Linked DNA regions of Homo sapiens: region 2 is reported to be linked to region 1. The links are microRNA targets in miRTarBase. Many come from high-throughput screens and were not tested one by one. Region 1 holds a microRNA gene; the other region holds the end of a gene's coding sequence.
Evidence for each region. The annotated mature microRNA hsa-miR-668-3p reads UGUCACUCGGCUCGGCCCACUAC and lies in region 1 at 2,235-2,257, opposite strand. An mRNA with a match to its seed (bases 2 to 7 or 8) in the 3' UTR can be bound and repressed. Matches are read on the target gene's strand: a 7mer-m8 pairs with bases 2 to 8, a 7mer-A1 pairs with bases 2 to 7 and ends in A, and an 8mer does both.

Region 1 (3,408 bases):
TATACCTAGTTAAGCTGTCCCTTGTGCATAAAGAGATATATACTCTCAAATGCACAGGAACTCAAGGGTAGTGTCTATGAGCTATTCTCACAGAAACAATAAGATCATTTCCATTGAGAGATAAATTAAACTTAAAAACTAAAGAACGGAGAAACCTCAGTTAAAAAAAAACAAACCTTGTGGTCAGAAATGAATTCATTTAAATATAGAACTATGGCAAAACACCTGCAAGAATTATAGTTCTAGAACAAATTGCAGATATTTATAATGTAAAATTAAAATGTATAATTGAGAAAAAGCAGGAGATAGTAAGCAAAGGAAGAATAAGAATGCTGACTTCTTTATCTTTCTGAACTAGGAGTGAAATTGAAATAGTTAAAAACCATAACAATCCTAACCACTTAATTTTTACACTCTAATTTTTCTTAATTTTACAGGGATCTTTTAGGAGTTGCTACCTGTGGTGGTAAAGCGAGAAACATTTATCAATCATTTCAATCTCCTTTAGCTTGTTTTTTATGATAAATTCAAGGAAAATTATAGTTAGCATTTTTAATAAAATGATTAGGTACAGTGTGATCTCATATTTTCCCTGCGTCTGTCTTGTTTTTCTATTTGCATGTATGCTCAGACAGGTGTATGAAATTTCTAAAGCCCTTAATGGTTATTTCTGGGTGCCAGAGAATTGGGCAATTTTCCTTCTTTTTCATTTAGATTTTTCCACATCGCTTGAATTTTATTAAGCATGTGTCATTTTCATAAATATGGTAATAAGGTAGAATAATTATCCTTTTTGAAAAGAAAAACAAGAAATTGAAAATGCAACTGTCTTCTGTTCTTAAATTTGCTGTGGCCTCCAGATCAACAGATGTGGTGAGTCACCCTTCCAGTGAGTCCCCAAGAATGCTGAAATCAACGCCCCTTCCCTGAATTTGTCAACATGTCTAAGAAGTCCTTCCTCCATGGTAAGATTTAATAGTGAAAGAGAAGAGAACTATACATTGTTTTTCTTTAAAAAAAAACACAAAACCCCAGAAGCATCATGGGCACCACCACTTCCTCAGTCACAGAGGGGTCTTGAGCACAGATCACATGCTTCTTCCCCAGGAATGCACTGGCTGAGGATTAGGAGTGCTAGCAGCACCTACCCATTGGTTCCAGGGCCACACACATGTTCAGTTGCACTGGTGTGGAACCAACATGAGTATGGTGTCCCCTAAATCGGCATCAGGTCCAAGAAGACACCTGGTGAGATCTGATACCGAAAAGAGGTCGACCGTGTATTGGGCATCATTAAATAATGCGAACTCACCACGGACAACCTCCCTCCGAGTACCATGAGGTGGCACTGCTCGCAGCATTCCTGCATCTTCTGCACAGCCTGGGCAGCTTGGGAGTGGCCTCTGAGGGTGGATGGGACCCTGAGGATGAGTGGACCAGGTGGCTCAAACCCATGCTCTCCGGCCAACCCCAGGTTCACCAAGCCAGGATTAGTGTGCACAGAAATACCACTTCTTGTGCTCAGCTGGCCATGCAGGCAACATTTAATAATGCAAGGATGTCAGTGGCACAGGAGTCATTAAATATGAAGCAAACCACACACAAATGTGTGTGCAAAAGCAGGCTAAGCACTGCCTCCTTGGTAAACCTGGGATTCCCTTACAGGAATTCTCTGGAGGGTGTAAGGCTGCTGTGGGTTAGTAAACCAGGGGTCGCACAGAGTCCTGTTCCTGTTTTCTTCTGTATCCCGACGGCTGACTAATAAAAGATGCTTCTAGATGCCCAAGATTCAACTCCAAGGTTGAATTTGATAGGAATAAAAAAAGAAGTCAGCCATGTGTATTTCAATCTTAACTTTTAAAAAATTAGGGCATCCCAACAACCTCTCTCGATTTTCCTAAAGTTGGTAGTGCCCCAGGAAGTTGTTTTAGGGTCAGCTTGGACTCTAAAGTTAGTAGGTCAGTTACATGCATCCTCAGGAAAATGCTTGCCATGGGGTCAGCCATCCAGAAACCTACCTTGGAAGCAGCACTGGCTCAGGAAGCCCTCCGAGGCAGAATTTGACACTAAAAGAGAGGAGAGCCGTGTATGACTCGCTTTGATGAATCGAATTCATCACGGCCAGCCTCTCTCCAAGTACCACACATGAACACTGGTGAGAAATCCATTGCCTCTCTGGCAGAGGTGGCCGCCCTTCTCGGGAGTCCTGTTAGGAATGGGTGGGATAGTATTGGGTAGTGGGCCGAGCCGAGTGACATACACCCACATTAAGTGCATGCTCACCCGAGGCGCACTTACCTTAAGGGAGTGCTGAGGGCACTGCCTTCTCCCCAGCAGCAAGGATGCAGTTCGTCCTTCCAGACAAGACAGGGAGCTTTTGCGTAGCTCACTGGTCCCTGACAGGAGAATCATGGCCGCTTCCCAAAGCCGCATTATCTCCATGGAGCCTCCTAGGGAGAGACAGGATGCTGGGTATTAGAGGACGACGTGACAGACCTAACAAAGGCAGCACATGCTCTGGGAAGAAGGATTCAGTCACACACCCAGGAGAAAAGCTGGCCCACATCAGGTCCCTCAACAGAAGACAACATGGCGTCCCACATCGGAAGTCAACACTTCAAGGAGGCTGTCACAGTGGTGAAGGGGCTGCCAAGGCTGACTCATTGCATTTTAAGTAAACATACACCCCCAAGAGCACGTGTCATCGCAGTCCACCAAGCAGTCACAGCAAGTCCATGGCCGCTTCCCCAGAGTTGGTGGGAGCTCTGGAAAGTCTTCCTGGAGTGGGAGTGATGCTGAGGGTTGGTGACTAGGTGGCCCACAGGGTGAACACAGTGCATGCCCCTCTGGTCAACCAGTCACACACCCTGGACGGTGCTGACACCAACATCTCTTCTGGAAGTCGGCCTGGGGCCCAGGGAGCCTCTCTTCAAAGTCTTGTGAGGTGACGCTGGTGACAGAACCACAGCTGATTCCCCAGAGTTGGTGAGACCCATGGGAAGACCTCCTATAGGTGCATGGGAGGCTCGGATTATCGGGCCAGGTGACTTACAGCTAGGTCAGCGCATTGTCCATGGCCCGCCATCCATTCTTGGCTTTTCCACATGGTTGACACAAAGACTATCTTTCCTGAAGCTGCCATTGTGTCCAGGAAGTCCTTAGAGGTAGCATTTGGTACTGAAAAAAGTGTTGTCCGTGAATGATTCGTCATAAGTAAAGCGAATCCACCACGAACAACTTCTCTTCAAGTACCACAGAAAAGCAGAGACAAGACAGACAAGGAGTCCCCTTCCACTTCTCCAAGGGGAGTGGCTGCCAACCACCATCCTGTGGACAGAGTGGACACCGAGCATTAGTGAGGCAGCTTACGGGTGTCCTAGGAACACACTGGAGTTTGGGCAACCCTTC
Region 2 (3,379 bases), not on the chromosome of region 1:
GCCTCCCAAGGTGCTGGGATTACAGGTGTAAGCCACCACACCCGGCCCTATGTGCTTTATTTATTTATTTTTTTTGGAGGCAAGGTCTCACTCTGTCACCTGGCTGGAGTGCAGTGGCAGGATCTCAGCTCAAGTGATCCTCCCATCTCAACCTCCTGATTAGCTGAGACTACAGGCGCTACCATGCCTCATTTTTCTATTTTTGGTAGATTGCTCAGGCTGGTCTGAAACTCCTAGGCTCAAGCGATCCACCTACCTTGGCCTCCCAAAGTGTTGAGATTGCAAGTGTGAGCCTCTGCACCTGGCCAAAACTATGTAATTCATTTTGCATTTACAGCAGTTATATTTTGTAGGAAATGAAAAACCACATGCAATAAAAACCAAAATGAAAAAAAAAATAGTTAGGCTTATATTTATTTACTCATGCCAAAATACCCCTTATGTATTCTTTCATGTTTTTTAGTACATGGAGAGGTTCACAGCCACCAAGAAGAAGTTTGCGTGAAGTTCTCCAGGACTATGGAAACCTTACAGGATACTGACTTAGAACCTCTGTTGGAATGTGGCTGAGTCAAAGCCTCCTGTTGTTGTTAGGGGTATCTACAGTAAGGAGATGATACTTCAGGAGATTATATTTCACTCAATGATCTTTTCTCATTTCAGGGCTCTTCTCAAATAAGCTAAAAGAAAAAGGATCAGGAGACAGGAAAAGTCTTCCGTTTTGAGTCATGAGTAGGGCAATAGACAAGGTTCTCTTCAAAACCATCATTAGTTTGGCTTTAAGAAACCAGTAGCTAGCTGCTATTTATATGGTGAGGGGGTGCTGCCTGGTAACAGAATAGCTCCACACCACAGCTTGAGATTTTGTTTAGTTTCACTGTGTGAGCTTTCATAAAGTCTGTTGCCATTCCATCTCTGTGTTAACACTTCATATTTTTATGAAATTCAGATAATTTGTGAGAGGCTGGCATGGATCTAAGGATTTATTATTTTTATTCTAGTCCATCAGTTCAGTCGCAGTTTTTATACTAGGACTTTAGGATGTACATAAATGTGTGACTGTTTGTCTTGATTAAAAGTGCACTTTGGCCTGGGCATGGTGGCTCATGCCTATAATCCCAGCACTTTGGGAGGCCAAGGCGGGTGGCTCACTTGAGGCTAGGAGTTCAAGACTAGCGTGGCCAACATGAGGAAACCCTGTCTCTACTAAAAATACAAAAATTAGCTGGGTGTGTTGGTGCATGCTTATAATCCCAGCTACTTGGGAGGCTGAGGCAGGAGAATCGCTTGAACCCAGGAGGTGGAGGTTGCAGTGAGCCGAGATTATGCCACTGTACTCCAGCGTGGGTGACAGAGTGAGACTCTGTCTCAAATTAAAAAAATAAAAAATAATTTTTTTTTTTTAAAGTACGCTTTGTTGGCTGGGCACGGCGACTCACGCCTGTAATCCCAGCACATTGGGAGGCCAAGGCAGGCAGATCACGAGGTTAGGAGTTCGAGACCAGCCTGGCCAACATGGTGAAACCCTGTCTCTACTGAAAATACAAAAATTAGCTGGGCGTGGTGGTGGGTACCTGTAATCCCAGCTACTTGGGAGGCTGAGGCAGGAGAATTGCTTGAACCCAGGAGGCAGAGGTTGCAGTGAGCCGAGATCATGCCATTGCACTCCGACTCTGGGCAACAGAGCAAGACTCTGTCTCGGGGGAAACAAAAAAAAAGTGTGCTTTGTCAAGAGAAGCACCAGCAGACCTCTAAGAACTGCTCTCTAAGGCTGCGGTAGCAAATTATCTACTATTGCAGGTGCCTTATTGGTAGAGGGCTCTGAAGAGCCAAAACTGTATATGCAACACTTGTAAGATAAAAGGGACTTTAATAATCAAGATTTTCTTGAAGATTTGTTAGAAATAATGTCTTATTTCTGGTAACCTTTCCCTTTTTGTATTTATAACTCTACTAACCAAATTACCTATCAATAAACCATTACTATAATATTTTAAAACAACCTATGTTTATCAAGCTTACTCTCTGAGTGACAGAATATACTAAATAAAGAATTTTTTAATGAACTTTGGCTGGAAGCAAGGTTAATCCTTTAAAGGAGGAGGACAGGAGAACTTAAACCTATAAATAGATTAGGAAGACATGTTTCATGCTTATGTTCAGATTGTATGAGTAGTGAAATGCCTTCATGTGACATAAACATTTTGTGATACTAGAACTATGCTTATTAAGAGAATCTGAGGTTGGGCGCGGTGGCTCACGCCTGTAATCCCAGCACTTTGGGAGGCTGAGGTGGGTGGATCACGAGGTCAGGAGTTCAAGACCAGCCTGACCAATGTGGTGATACCCCATCTCTACTAAAAATACAAAAATTAGCTGGGTGTGGTGGCACGTGCCTGTAATCCCAGATACTCAGGAGGCTGAGGCAGGAGAATTGCTTGAAACCGGGAGGCGGAGCTTGCAGTGAGGGTGCCATTGAACTCCAGCCTGGGCAATAGAGTGAGACTGCGTCTCAAAAAAAAAAAAAAAGGCCGGGCGCGGTGGCTCACGCCTGTAATCCCAGCACTTTGGGAGGCCGAGGCGGGCAGATCACGAGGTCAAGAGATCGAGACCATCCTGGCTAACACGGTGAAACCCTGTCACTACTAAAAATACAAAAAATTAGCCGGGCGTAGTGGTGGGCGCCTGTAGTCTCAGCTACATGGGAGGCTGAGGCAGGAGAATGGCGTGAACCCGGGAGGCGGAGCTTGCAGTGAGCGGAGATCTTGCCACTGCACTCCAGCCTGGGTGACAGAGCCAGACTCCATCTCAAAAAAAAAAAAAAAAGAATCTGAAGGTACAAAGGTAGAGGATTTCAGACTACCACTAACATCAACATTTAGAAAGCTACCATTTTGGTCATTTTCTGATTTTATCTTAGTCACAAAGCTATTACTAACTATATATCAACAGTTCTCAATAATGGTTAAACCTAGCTTATCCATTAAGTCAAGAGATCACACAAACCTACTATTTAACCTCCACGACAAAATCTTTCTGACGTAAATCTGGTCTAGGTGTTCTCTTTTTCCCATATGTTACTTTCTTTTTTGAGACAGAATTTCATTCCAGACTGGAGCGCAGTAGCACTATCTTGGCTCACTGCAACCTCCACCTACCAGGTTCAACTGATTCTTGTGCCTCATTCTCCTGAGTAATTGGGATTACAGGCATGCACCACCACACCCAGCTCATTTTTGTATTTTTAGTAGAGACAGGGTTTCACCGTGTTGGCCAGACTGGTCTTGAACTCCTGGCTTCAGGTGATCCACCCACCTCAGCCTCCCAAAGTGCTGGGATTACAGGTGGGAGCCAACACACCCAGCCTCCCATATGTCAT

Region 2: miRTarBase lists LRRC57 as a target of hsa-miR-668-3p. Seed matches in the 3' UTR shown: 8mer at 2,028-2,035.

What each region holds. Positions count from the first base shown.
Region 1 is chr14:101,054,149-101,057,556 of GRCh38, reverse strand. MIR668 (microRNA 668) reads right to left here and starts at 2,299; the gene lies at 2,234-2,299. MIR382 (microRNA 382) reads right to left here and starts at 3,251; the gene lies at 3,176-3,251. MIR134 (microRNA 134) reads right to left here and starts at 2,870; the gene lies at 2,798-2,870. MIR485 (microRNA 485) reads right to left here and starts at 2,138; the gene lies at 2,066-2,138. It also overlaps MIR323B.
Region 2 is chr15:42,541,209-42,544,587 of GRCh38, reverse strand. It overlaps LRRC57 (leucine rich repeat containing 57), which reads left to right. Exons shown (of 6, transcript NM_153260.3): 6 at 464-3,379. The coding sequence ends at 505. Among named protein-coding and RNA genes, the nearest start is that of LRRC57, 5.9 kb to the left of the region's middle.